Homo sapiens: one gene and its partners. The protein of the gene in region 3 purifies or fractionates together with the protein of the main gene of each other region. This does not show direct contact. Each region holds a gene or a part of one and is shown on either strand. Other genes may lie near its edges.

The links.
Region 1: the proteins of TES (region 3) and SH3BGRL purify together in Homo sapiens (affinity purification with mass spectrometry, with the first as the bait; one large-scale study listed by BioGRID). This does not show direct contact.
Region 2: the proteins of TES (region 3) and TRAFD1 purify together in Homo sapiens (affinity purification with mass spectrometry, with the first as the bait; one large-scale study listed by BioGRID). This does not show direct contact.
Region 4: the proteins of TES (region 3) and TUBAL3 purify together in Homo sapiens (affinity purification with mass spectrometry, with the first as the bait; one large-scale study listed by BioGRID). This does not show direct contact.

Annotation. Positions count from the first base shown.
Region 1 is NC_000023.11:81,296,102-81,299,047, reverse strand, and holds the end of SH3BGRL (adapter SH3BGRL), read right to left. Parts: intron 1,854-2,946; coding exon 1,821-1,853; 3' UTR 501-1,820; downstream 1-500. UniProt on the Homo sapiens protein: Appears to function as an adapter protein that bridges proteins together or proteins with mRNAs. May function as a ubiquitin ligase-substrate adapter.
Region 2 is NC_000012.12:112,135,560-112,139,059, reverse strand, and holds part of TRAFD1 (TRAF-type zinc finger domain-containing protein 1), read right to left. Parts: intron 1-3,500. UniProt on the Homo sapiens protein: Negative feedback regulator that controls excessive innate immune responses. Regulates both Toll-like receptor 4 (TLR4) and DDX58/RIG1-like helicases (RLH) pathways.
Region 3 is NC_000007.14:116,234,539-116,238,038, reverse strand, and holds part of TES (testin), read right to left. Parts: coding exon 3,420-3,500; intron 2,172-3,419; exon of another isoform or gene 1-2,171. UniProt on the Homo sapiens protein: Scaffold protein that may play a role in cell adhesion, cell spreading and in the reorganization of the actin cytoskeleton. Plays a role in the regulation of cell proliferation. May act as a tumor suppressor. Inhibits tumor cell growth.
Region 4 is NC_000010.11:5,402,029-5,405,999, forward strand, and holds the start of TUBAL3 (tubulin alpha chain-like 3), read right to left. Parts: upstream 2,801-3,971; 5' UTR 2,765-2,800; coding exon 2,762-2,764; intron 1-2,761. UniProt on the Homo sapiens protein: Tubulin is the major constituent of microtubules, a cylinder consisting of laterally associated linear protofilaments composed of alpha- and beta-tubulin heterodimers.

The DNA of each region.
Region 1 (2,946 bases), on a different chromosome or scaffold from region 3:
AATAAAATATTTCAGTTTAGGAAGACTCAATTCAACCTTTTACTTTAATATACTATGTTAATTTTAAGTTATATAAACATGGCAAAAAATACATCTATTTTTAAAGAATGCCCATTTTGGCAGTGTTAACTTATTTGACATTAAAATAAAAGTGAAAATGACCACATAAAATATTGCAAGTATCATCAGCAACATTTAATAAAGCTTAGGAGAAAATATTGACTAAAAAACTTTTTTTGCGTTTCCAGTGTATTACAAAGCACCCTGTTTTCTCTAGAGTTCTTTATGCCGTATTTTTGTAAACCCAATAAAATTGTTCATTTGACCTCATGTGTATTGTGAGATTAAAAGCCCTAAAAAGAAAACATAGAAAACGAAAACCTTGAATTGCATTCAAAGCTTTTTCTTTCTACTATTTTCTCTTTTTGCATTCCCAACCCTCTAAAAAAAGATATTACTCATCTAAAATTACTATTATATAAACTCCAAGAACACATAAGTTATGTTTCTAAAAGTACTGAGTTTATTTTAAAGCATAGCATCAAGTTTGAATCTCATGAAACAAAGGCATCTCTTCATTATATGTTGATTTTGGCAAAAAGTAAAGACCAGCATACAATAGATATACATGATAATGTAGTTTAAAGTAAGAGGTGTTTGCTTTTGGTAATAAGGTAGTGTGAAACTTACTATGTAAATCTATGTTGGTTATTTAGGCCATGTTTCTTGTCTTTTTAGAAGTCTTCAGGCTTAATATTTTAAAAGTTGCCCTTTTTATTTGATACTTCTACTTTTTGCTGGAATAGAGGCATAGAAAAGATTCTCACTGCTTAGACTAATACACTCATACAATACATGGCTAAACTGAAATAAAAAGGTAAGATATCTTAGGAATAGTAGCATTTACGATTGTGAGTTGTTTTAAACGGGCAAAACTACTAAGATTTGTTTTAGCAAAAACTCAAGGGAAACCAATCTTGGGAAATGATCGCCAACCTGTTTTATAAGAGTTATTTAAAAGTCTAATCTCTTTGCTAGAGAATGCCATTTTAAGCTTACTTGGCATCCCACTTTCATGATATACATATGCATATTTCACTGAGGCAAGGAACTTGGATATATCATTCCATCATAGCTGTGTAGTTAAACAAGGAACTTGTCCACTGAATGAATCTATTGCTTTTGTGCGTGTAAAAGGATATCTATTCTGATCACTGAAATGTGCAATGAAAGGCTACATTTAGAAGCTCAGAAAATCTGTGGTTCAATATGTAGAAGTTTCATCTACAAAAGAATGGGAATGTTATAATTACGATAGGAAATTACAACGTTTAACATATCATAAACATTACCTGCAAGAACTTTTTAATCGCAGTAATATAGCATCAAAAAGGTACATATTCTTGTTCATGAAAATTAATGAGGCAACTTAGGAATGAGAGACAGGTTATTTCTCTTTCTCCTTTTTAATGTAGAGCTGCAGATACACTTAAGTTGCCATAGTAATGGCAGAAGGAGGGAAGGGTGTTTTCTTTGTAAAATCATTGGTGTATACAGGATGGCTTGGCAGGTAACAACACTATTTCTACGATATCTACTTATTAATATAATTTTATGTTAATATCCCATTCTCCTCACCATAATCACCATAATGTTCAAATTTTAATTTTGTATTCATTTTGAATGTTTGCATGTGAAAACCCAACTAATCTATTATTTCAACATTAAGCCTATTTCTTTTGAAGCAAAGCTAATTCTGCTATTTTATAAAAGCAATGGAGACTCATTTTTCAGGATGCTTAAAGCACAGTGCTTAAGGTTCATGCTTGCTGCTTTGCTTGCACTTCTGCTTCCTGAAATGAAAAACAAACAAAACAGATAAGTTTAAACATCACAGAGCAGACACCCATGTGTATTTTAGTCAGACTACATTAGTTCCAACTACTAAGAATAAACAAAAGCCCCCAGAAGAGATTTCTTAAAAAGTTCTTAATAGAAAAACTATATAATACAAACAGATTTCTAGAAACAGATACACAAAAAGACTACCTAATCATTCCTAATGATTTGGAATACTTTCATGAAAGCAAGTGATATACAATTATAATTGATATTTTACTTAAAAATAGTCAGTTTCCTTTTTGTGTGATTTTTTTTCATGAAAATTGAGAATATAAAAACATGGTTACTTAAGTTTAAAATTAGTTGGGTTTTGGTTAATTAAGGTTTAAATTACTTAGAAAATGTGCTATCCATTAAAATATTGTAGTTTTCATGTTTTATGATAGAATACACACCAAAAAATCAGGTTGTCTTCCTTCTCCTCTGGATAGTGAGGTACTCACCTCTAGCATAGGAACTCTGACCTACTTGACACAAAATAAACTTCAAGGAAAGTTTGTTGAACTAAAGATGAGTGGCAAGATTGACTCCAGAAAAGGAAACATCAGACTTAAGTTGTAGAAATCAAGCGTGGTAGACAACATCATTCTAAACACCTGTCACTAAATCAATACTTGACAGTCTCAGGAGGACTGATACTGTCCAAATGAGTCCCAGTATTACATGCAAAAGAAGGGAGAAAAGCTAAAAGAGACACTAGATTTTTACCCAAAAAAGGCAAAAGTAGAGGAAAGAAGAAAATATTAAATGACACCAAAATTCATTCTTCATATCCTTTAAAAAAATAACGAAATATACTACTGACTCATTGATATGGTTTGGCTCTGTGTCCCCACCGAAATCCCATGTCAAATTGCAATTCCCAGTGTTGGAGGAGCAGCCTGCTGGGAGGATATTTGATCATGAGGGCAGTTTCTAATGGCTTAGCACCATCCTCCTACTGCTGCTTGTCTAAAAGTGTGTAGCACCTCTCCCTCTCTCTCCTGCCACCAGGCGAGGACGTGCTTCCTTCCCCTTCACCCTTTGCCATGATTGTAAGTTTCC
Region 2 (3,500 bases), on a different chromosome or scaffold from region 3:
AGCTGGTATACAATTTTAAAGCCCAAAAAGGATATATGTAAAAATCATGTCTCTTCTCCCCTGTTCCTCTGCTACCTAAGGCCTTTTTATCAATTTATTGTGTTTCCTGCAAGAGGTAGTTCATGTATATACAAACAGTGCTGAAAATGTTGGAGTAGCATTTAGAATAGAACTTTAGTTTAATTTTTTTTTTTTTTTTTTTGAGACGGAGTTCGCTTCTGTTGCCCAGGCTGGAGTACAATGGCATGATTTCGACTCAGTGCAACCTCTGCCTCCTGGGTTCAAGCAATTCTCCTGCCTCAGCCTCCCAAGTAGCTGGGATTACAGGAGCCTACCACCACACCTGGCTAATTTTTGTATTTTTAGTAGAGATGGGGTTTCACCACTTTGGCCAGTCTGGTCTTGAACTCTTGACCTCATGTGATCTGCCTGCCTCAGCCTCCCGAAGTGCTGGGATTACAGGCGTGAGCCACCACGCCCAGCATTTTTTGTTTTTGTTTTTGTTTTTTTTTGAGACAGTCTCACTCTGTTGCCCAGGCTGGAGTGCAGTGGTGTGATCTTGGCTCACTGCAACCTCTGCCTCACAGGTTCAAGCAATTATCCTGCCTCAGCCTCCCGAGTAGCTGGAATTACAGGCATGCGGCACCATGCCTGGCTAATTTCTGTATTTTTAGTAGAGATGGGGTTTCACCATGTTGACCAGGCTGGTCTTGAACTTCTGACCTCAAGTGACCCGCCCTCCTCTGCCTCCAAAAGTGCTGGGATTACAGGCTGAGTCATTGCGCCTGGCCTACCTTTTTATTTTTATTTTTATTTTTTTGAAACAGGGTCTTACTTTGTCGCCTAGGCTGGAATGCAGTGGCACAAACAGGGCTCACTGCAGCCTCAACCTCCAGGCTCAAACAATATCGTACCTCAGCCCCTCGAGCAATTGGGACTACAGGAACGGACCACCATTCCCAGCTAATTTTTTAGTTTTTTGTAGAGATAGGGGTCTCACGATATTGCCTAGACTGGTCTTGAACTCTTTGGTTTAAGCAATGCTCTCGCCTTGGCCTCCCAAAGTGCTAGGATACAGGCATGAGTCACTGTAGCCCGCTGTGAATTACCTTTAAGGGTAATTTAATTATAAATTAATAAAATCAAGTTGTTACAGTTTGAGGCACACAGAATGAAATGCACAAATCTTTAAGTATATACCTTGGTGAATTTTTACATATGTATATCCACTCTTCTATAACTACCATATAAACAGCTGTTTGGATTTTTATTTATTTATTTTTATTTATTTATTTTTTTAGACGGAGTCTCGCTCTGTCGCCCTGACTGAAGTGCAGTAGCGCAACCTCGGCTTACTGCAAGCTCCGCCTCCCGGGTTCACGCCATTCTCCTGCCTCAGCCTCCCAAGTAGCTGGGACTATAGGCGCCCGCCACCACGCCCAGCTAATTTTATGTATTTTTAGTAGAGACGGGGTTTCACCGTATTAGCCAGGATGGTCTCAATCTTCTGACCTCGTGATCCGCCCGCCTCAGCCTCCCAAAGTGCTGGGATTACAGGCGTGAGCCACTGCGCCCAGCCAAGAAATGAAGATCAAGGCTGAGGGATGCTCCCTACTGAATGGGAAAACTGTCCTTGGTTCCACATGGGCTGTAGACACAGCCCTTCTGCCAGCAACTGTTCCTGCAAGGAACTTGTGCTCAACTGAACAAACTGTCACGTGGTTCCTTGAAGGGGCACAGCACTGATTTCACTTGCATTATAAAAGACTGAGTGGTGCTTTTGACTGTTTATGTCAACACTTGAAAACAAGGTGAGCCAGTTTTTTTTTGTTTGTTTTAGATGGAGTCTCACCCTGTCACCCAGGCTGGAGTGCAATGGCACGATCTCGGCTCACTGCAACCTCCACCTCCCAGGTTCAAGCAATTCTCCTGCCTCAGCCTTCTGAGTAGCTGGGATTTCAGACGTGCGTATCCACGCCCAGCTAATTTTTGTATTTTTAGTAGAGACGGGGTTTCACCATATTGGCCAGGCTGGTCTCGAACTCCTGACCCTGTGATCCACCCACCTCAGCCTCCCAAAGTGCTGGGATTACAGGCATCAGCCATCACGCCCGGCTGGATTTTTAAATTGGTGAATTAACATACTCATTCAACGTTGGCCAGTTTTGGCCAGATGCCATAGCTCACGCCTGTAATCTCGACATTTGGGAAAGCCAAGAAGGGAGGATCACTTGAGGCCAAGAGTTCGAGACTAGCCTGGGCAACATAACAAGACCCCAACTCTATGAAAAACAAAAATAAATAAAATTAGTCAGGCATAGAGGCCTATACCTGTAGTACCACCTATGCAGGTAGATCATTTGAGCCCAAGAATTCGAGGCTGCAGTGAGTTATGATCATGCCATTGCATGCTAGCCTGGGTGACAGAGTGAGACTGTGTCTCTTAAAAAAGGTTTTTAATTAAAAAAAAGAAAAATGACCGGGCATGGTGGCTCACGCCTTTAATCCTAGCACCTTGAGGGGCCAAGGTGGGTGGATCACCTGAGGTCAGGAGTTCAAGATCACCCTGGCCAACATGGCAAAATCCTGTCTCTACTAAAAATACAAAAAAAATTAGCCAGGCATGGTAGAGCACGCCTATAACCCCAGCTACTCAGGAGGCTGAGGAAGGAGAATCGCTTGAACCTGGGAGGTGGAGGTTACAGTGAGCCAAGACTGCACCACCGCACTCCAGCCTGCAAGACGGGAACAAGATTCCATCTCAAAAAAAAAAAAAAAACTTTGGGCTGAGTACAGTGGCTCATGCCTGTAATCCTAGCACTTTGGGAGGCTGAGGCAGGAGGACCACTTGAGCCCAGGAGTTCAAGACCAACCTGTGCAACACAGCAATAGAGACAACACCTGTCTCTATTTTTTGGGTTTTTTTTTTTTGAGATGTAGTCTCACCCTGTCATCCAGGCTGGAGTGCAGTGGCGCGATCTCGGCTCACTGCAACCTCTGCCTTCCGGATTCAAGCGATTCTCGTGCCTCAGCCTCCCAAGTAGCACACACCTCCACGCCCAGCTAATTGTTGTATTTTTAACAGAGACAGGGTTTCACCATGTTGGCCAGGCTGGTCTCAAACTCTGACCTCAAGTGATCTGCCCACCTCTGCCTCTCAAAGTGCTGGGATTACAGGCATGAGCCACCATGCCCAGCCGACCCTGTCTGTATTTAAAAAAAAAAAAAAAAAAACCTTTGGCCAGTTTTATCTCAACTAGCGAGCAAATGATACTCTATTCTCTCTCACCAAATGCTGAGGAATTTCTTAGGTTAAATAGCATGTTATCCAGGTGTTCAAGATTTTAAAATGAAGCCAGATGTGGTGGCTCACGCCTGTAATCCCAGCACTTTGGGAGGCTGAAGACAGGCAGATCACAAGGTCAGGCCAACATGGTGAAATCCCGTCTCTACTAATAATTAGCTGGGAGTGGTGGTGGGCGCCTATAATCCCAGCTACT
Region 3 (3,500 bases):
GCTGTGGGCTGAACTGTGTTTCCTCAAAGTCATATGCTGAAGCTCAAACTCCTAATGTGACTGTATTTGGAGCAGGGGCTTTTAAGAAGTAAAGTTAAAAGATGTCACAAGGTGAACGTCACAATCCATTGGAATAGGTGACCTTATAAGAAAAGGGAGAGAGATCTCTTCCTCTCCAGACACACACACACACACCCACACACACCAAGGAAAGGCCATGTGAGCACGTGGTGAGAAGGCAGCCGTCTGTAAGCCAGGAAGAGAGACCTCACCAGAACTCAACCATGTTGGCACCTGATCTCGAACTTTCCAGCCTCTAGAACTGGAAGAAAGTACATTTCTGTTTAAACTACCAGGTATGTGATATTTTGTTATGGCAGCCTGAAAAGACATACATGGGCAGGGAAGACTTCTCAGAGGTATTTCTTGAGCTGAGACTTTTTGTTTCCTAGTGGTGGGAGGTAGGGTTTTCCAGGCAGAGAACACCATGCAATAAGGCACAAAATTTCAGGGAATAGTATGTATCAAGCACTTGGATCATAGAGTGCTTGGAAGGGAAGTGGAAGAGGCTGGAAAAGCAAGCAGAGGCCAGATGTTAGGGTTTAATGTCAAAGGCCAAGAAATTTGCCTAAAAGAAGTCCAGTGGGAAACTACTGAGGGTTCTTAAGTCATCTGAAGTATGTAATAGTATCCATGTTCAAAAGACCATTCTTGTGATTGTGTGAGAGGCCAGACTAATAAAGAGGTAGAGAATAATTTAACTCTGATTTTTGAAATGTGCCCGATGGAGCCCTCAGGGTCCTAAGTCAAGGATCACCATGAAGCTGGAGGAGGAGGCTAAGTGGGCAGGGTCATGGGATCCCATGTCTACTTCACCCACATAAGTTCTGTGGCCCTAGACTAGACCTGGAATCTTTGTTACACTCAGGACAACTAGTCTAGAATATTTTACTTCAAAGACTGTACTGAAAGAGGCTACATAGGGAGGTCAAAGGCACCTGCTTCAGCTCTTTTAGCTATGGTGAAAAAGTCAGGGAATTATCAAGAATTCTGAGAGAAATGTGACTGGACCCATGCCAGGAAGATGTCAGAACTACTAAGAAATACCAATGGGGTGGACTGTTATCAACCCCAGCTGAATGACAGGCCATATGCAAAGTCCTAGACTATTATGGCTCTTAGATTTTCAGACTACACCCAGTTGATTAAATGAGTCTGTGTGATAAATTGAAATGTAAAAGGTTATTTTCATGCCATGGAGATCTGCTCTTGTCGGATATATTTTCATCTGAAAATATCGATTAAAATGATTAATATAGACATAACAAAAATGACTAACTTGCTTTAGAGAAAAGATGATATCTCTTAGGAATGAGCTTTAAAATCTCACGAGCGGTTTTTGGCAACTGCATAGCAGAACTAAAAAGAATGCAGGTTAAGTATCTCTTACCCAAAATGTTTCACAAGTAAAATAAAACAGAAGTGTATCAGATTTCAAATTTTTTTTAAATTTTGGAATATCTGCATAAACAATGAGATATCTTGGGGATAGGGCCCAAGTTTAAACATAAAATTAATTTCTGTTTCATATACAGCTTATGTACATAAGCTGATGGTAATTTTATACATATTTTAAATAATTTTGTACAAGACACAAAGGTTTGAATGCATTTTTGAATGCAACCTGTCACACGGTCAGGTATGTGAAATTTTCCACTTGTGGCATCGTGTTGACACTCAAGAAGTTTTGGTTTTGGAGCATTTTGGATTTTGGATTTTATGTATTATAAGATTGTAAGGTAAAAACTATGCCCAGGAGAGGGCAGTGCAGCCTTCTGTAAAGTTAACTAATAGGCCCAATAGAAAATAGTGTGAGCATTAAGAGCAGAGATGTTCTAATTCATGAAAACTATTTTGTGTTAAGTCACTTTACCTTTTTAAAACATGAGAGACATACTGCCACTTCTATGTCCCTTGAAGAGACAGCACAAGGGAGAGCTGCTTAAGTCTTGTAAAAAAAAATTCTGGAAAACTTTAGCTCCCTAAAACTGAAGAATTGTATCAAAACTGAAGAACTGTATCAGTTCTAGCAGGTTTCTACTGACTTTCCTATTTTAAACAATTATCTTTGTTTCTGAAAACTGATTCAATAAACTAGTTTTTAAAAGAGATTAATGTCTAAAATTTTATTTGTTTATATTCTCCTTTAATTTACACTGTACACATCTCCAAGAGCTGATGAAAGTATTCTAAACGGTTTCCTGTGGAAATCTGTAGTACAGAAGTGTTTCTCAAATGAGAGTCATCCTAACAAGGTAGCTGCCATCCTAAAACTGTATAGTTATCTTTATTTTTTTTTCCTGCTAATTCTAACTTTGAGCAGACTTGTGAATTACCACTATGGACTTGACAGTCATTCATAAGCACAGGTTTCAAATACTGATTTTAGATTTATATGATATGCAGTAGTACTTTCAAAACAACCTAAAGATAAGATCTATAGAAAATTCACATTTTTGACTCACTAACATTGTCTTGTGTATATATGCACTTCATTCAAACCAAGACACTACAATTAATTTTTTTCTTAAAAAAATTCAAGTGTTTCAATGGTTTTTCACTAGTAACTTTACAGCTAAAAATTTTAAAGAGATCTAAATTCAACTTCATTTCCTGATAACTAACATATACATGCTTGATTCAGTATTCATATTTGTTTACGGAAAATGTAGACATGAGATGTAAAGTTACCAATTTTTAAGAAGAGAATAATTAAATTATTAAACAGGGCCAGGCATGGTGGCTCACGCCTGTAATCCCAGCACTTTGGGAGGTTGAGGTGGGCTGATCACTTGAGGTCAGGAGTTTGAGACCAGCCTTGCCAACATGGCGAAACCCCATCTCTACTAAGAATACAAAAAAGAAAAATTAGCCAGGTGTCGTGGCACAAGCCTGTAATCTCAGCTATTCAGGAGGCTAAGGCAAGAGAATCGCTTGAACCAGGAAGCGGAGGTTGCAGTGAGCTGAGATCACACCACTGCACTCCAGTCTAGGTGACAGAATGAGACTTCGTCTCAAAAAAAAAGTAACAAATAAATTATTAAACAGTCCTGGAGGATTACCACAAACTTATTTACCACCAGAAAGATGATATATTCAGTATTTCAGGCTCGAAGGAAATCTTAAAGACAGCAAGCAAATCCAACAACTCTAAATAGTTATTATGGTCCAATTCACTAAGTCAAACTTAATGACAGTAAGACAGAACACTTTTTATGTTGTATTCATTTCTCAGAAAAGACAGTAACAGGTCTGCAACTTAGCAACCATGCTGGAGAACTCGAAGATATCTCCACTGTCTGAGGAAGTATTGCAAAAAGTATAAATTACTAATGTGGTTGCAGTTTTCAAAACAATACCTCCAGAAGTGCAGTTCGAATCCTTCACATTTTTCTTTGCATTTTAAACAAGGGGCTCCAAATCCTTGCTCGTGACCTAAG
Region 4 (3,971 bases), on a different chromosome or scaffold from region 3:
TAAGTAAAAAGCACATAAGATGCATGATTGCATATAGAGTATGATGTCCAATATGTTCAAAAATAGGCATAAAAATCTAAAAGAAAATGCATCAAGATATTAAGTTTAGTAATATCTGGGTAGTGATTTTATTTTCTTGTCTAAACTTTACTATTTCTTCCACCTTCATATTCCCCCATCCCACTTTAAATCATCTTTTTTTTAAGGCAAACAACTATTCTGTTAAACAGACAATGATCTACGTTTTTAAGAGAAGGAAAGAAAAAAAATGAGAAGGAAAGTAAAAGCTAAATTCTAAGAAATCTGAGGTGATAGCAATCGCTGTTCTTAATATTGGTGTGGTTTGATTGACTGTGGTGCTGAAACAAATCTATTTAGAGGGTCTTGTAGAATGAGACCCCCATGTCTTCTGCATCATCAGGACCCTTTGGGCTGTTTGACCAGATAAGCTGAGGGGAGCCCTGCCCTTGTTCATGGCTACACTGCCCTAAAGCCTGAGATTCAACTACTGAAAGACCTCAGGCCTCCTGTCAATCCCTCACCTGTGGTCTACACAGGGGTCCCCAACCCCCGGGCCACAGACCAGTACCAGTCTGTGCCCTGTTAGGAACTGGGCTTTACAGAAGGAGGTGAGCAGCAGGTGAGTGAGCATTACTGACTGAGCTCTGCCTCCTGTCGGATCAGCGGCAGCATTAGATTCTCATAGGGGCACTAACCCTATTGTGAACTGCGCATGCAAGGGATCTAGGTTGTGTGCTCCTTATGAGAATCTAACTAATGCCTGACGATCTGAGGTGGAACAGTTTCATCCAGAAACCATCCCCACTGCCGACTCCATGGAAAAATTGTGTCCCACAAAACTGGTTCCTGGTGCCAAAAAGTTGAGGACCACTGGTCTACACAGACCACTAGTCAGAGGAAAGTAAGGAGAGGGCTCTGGTCGGCCACACCCCTGCAATCTGACTTGGACTCTGTTCATGCTCAATGGCATCAAACCTTTGTACTTTGTCTCTGTGATTCACAAGGCATAACAGCCCTCTGCTTCATGACCAATTCAAGTTCACTACCTTAGTAGGGCTTCCATCTTGTTTATTTTCTGTGCAACTATCAGTCTCTCTAATTTAGAAAGCACTTCATTTAGGACAAACTAATATTCCACCTCTCAAGACAGCATATTCTGTTATAAACAGGCTTCGAATACCCCTTATCAGGCTTCAGATAACCTTAATCTTATTCCTCTCCCCTTCTGTCGGACTTAAAGTGCTGCAAATACATCAGCTGCTGTAATCTGATCAAAACTTGGCTCCTTAAATTTAAGTTAACATTTTAAAAGGAGAGGGTGAACGTTCATTGTTTCTACATCATTAAAACCTCTTACTTTGTAAAGTTTACATGTAGATTTCTCTGTCTTCTCCACTGGCTACCACCCAGTCCTGTGTTACAGTGACGAGTAAAATTCAGGTGTACATGTGGTATTTGTTCATAATAGTCACAGTAAAAATAATCACTAACATTAAAAAAAAAAAAGATTGTTCCTCTTCACGTGGTCTGTTCAAGTGACTCAGAAAGCAGAGTGATGCTGTTCTTTTTGAAATCAGCACGAATAGCCTGGACTAACAAGCATCCTTCGTCTTTGAAGGAGCTTAGCTTATAACATAACTCTGTCCAAGGGTGTAGAAGACTATCTTTGCCTTATTCTTCTCTTAGCCTCTCCCTTTTTTTCCAAATTCTCTATGAAAATATTAGTCACACTATAAAGTAGAAGACTATAAAATGTCCACTGAACGTCAACACTGATAAGTCATAGCACATTATTAAACGCTGCTATAAGGATTATTTGAATTACTAGAAAAGCATAACTCTCAGTTAAACTTTCAATTTTGAGGTCTTTGTAGATTGATATGCAGCTGTGAGAAATAACATAGGAAGATCCCTTGCATCCGTTACCCATTTCCCGCAGTGGAAACATCTTGCAAGACCATAATACAAAATCACACCCAGAATGTTGACAGTGATAAGATACAGAACATGCTATTATCACAAGTCTCTCTCATGTTGAAAGGCATAATTTTTAAAAGCAAAACAATTTAAAATTTTTTAAATGTTGGACAGAGAGACCAATGGGGTGAGAAATCAAAGATCAAGAAGCAGTTCGAAATGTTGCTTCCATTGAAGAATTAAAAATTCAAAGATACTGAAAAACTGGCACAGAAAAAAATAAAGGGCAAATGGATCTGAAAAGGTCATCCCAAAACAGAATTATTGTAAGTTATTCTATTCATTGTGGTGCCCAAAGAACTAAACTCAAGGGAGGGCAAAGAAGATGTCTGCGCACTTTACCCTGCCAGGCATTTATGAGGTTAGCCACGGTTACCTAAGTCTGAAGTCCTCAGAAACTCTTAACAGCCTAACGAAAAGTGAAGCAATGAATATCTACAGAAAAATCAGCACTCTGGGCCTAAAACAAAGGTGAAAACTAAAGGAAGGAAAGGTTTTTGCTTCAGTGCTTCAATTAATGGCAGTGAGCTACTGCAAATCAACTGAGCTTTACCTTGAAAGAAGCAACATTACAGAGGAATAGATTACAGCCTGTCCACATCTGCTCCCAACTCATCTACTTGGACATTGAAAGAAACAAATGTTTCTTTACAAATGTCTTCTCTTGCATTACAATTTTATTAAGAATTGTTTGCTGTGGGAAAAGGGCCAAATATGATTAGTAAAATTTCCTACAACAATGCATAGGCGTGTAGTCACTTACCATGCTGATGAGAACGTGCCCTTCCTGCCCTGTAGTAATGACTGAGGAGCCTCCCAGCTGAGCTTTATCACAGGGCCCGGAAATGACTCCACCTGAGGGCTGGAGCTTTCTTCACTTAAAGCAGTATAGCTTCTTTTTAGTTTTTTTAGTTATCTGGTCTCAGAGTAGCTGTGTTGGGCCTGAACAACCCGGGATAAAGTTTGTACACAGCTGCAGATGAACTACTGAGAGCTTATCCAAATCTGCGTCCAACTTATAACTATGTTGAAAAGAACATGTGTCTTTTAAAAATCACCCTTTTGGGTTAAGAATTTATTTAGCATTGGCAGAGAAAAGGAAGGAGTATGAGTAAAATTTTCTGCAACAGCAAAGTAGCTTTTTCTATTGCATGAGTACTATGTGAATATCTTCTTAAATAAATTTAAACAATCCCTGAATACATACAGCAAACCAAGACAGTGTCCTTTTTACATCTGTGTCCTATGCATGCCTCTCAACCACTACCACATCCAAACATATGGGAATTTTCTGTTTTTATTATTATTGTCTTTTGAACTTTTATATTATTATACATAATATATACTTATGTTATTATTTTTTATTAATTGCACTAAGATCAGATCACACATCTTAACTGAGTTCTCTCCTTATATATTTGCTAAAGCTTCCTTTATATTCTACTATATGGTCAATTTTTGAAAATATTCCATGAGTGTTGAAAAGAATGTGCATTCTACATTTGTTGGATGCAATATTTTAGATAGACCGATCATTCAATCAATCAATCTATTAAATCAAATGGATTTATTGTGTAGTCCAAATTTTACGTATCAATTATTTCAAAAGATGTATTAAAAGTTTTCATTATAATTGTGAATTTACCCATTATTTCTTTTTCTGTCAATTTTTCCTTTATACATTTTGAGGCCATGTTATGAAGAGCACATAAATTTTAAATTATTATATTTTCAAAAACTTTAACAATTTTTTATTTTTAAATTACCCTCCTTATATACATTAATTATTTTTACCTTAAAGTTTTTTTTTTTTTTTTTTTGAGATGCAGTCTTGCTCTGTCGTCCAGGTTGGAGTGCAATGGTGCGATCTCAACTCACTGCAACCTCCACCTCCCAGGTTCAAGCGATTCTTCTGCCTCAGCCTCTCAAGTAGCTGGGATTACAGGTGTGTGCCACTATTCCTAGCTAATTTT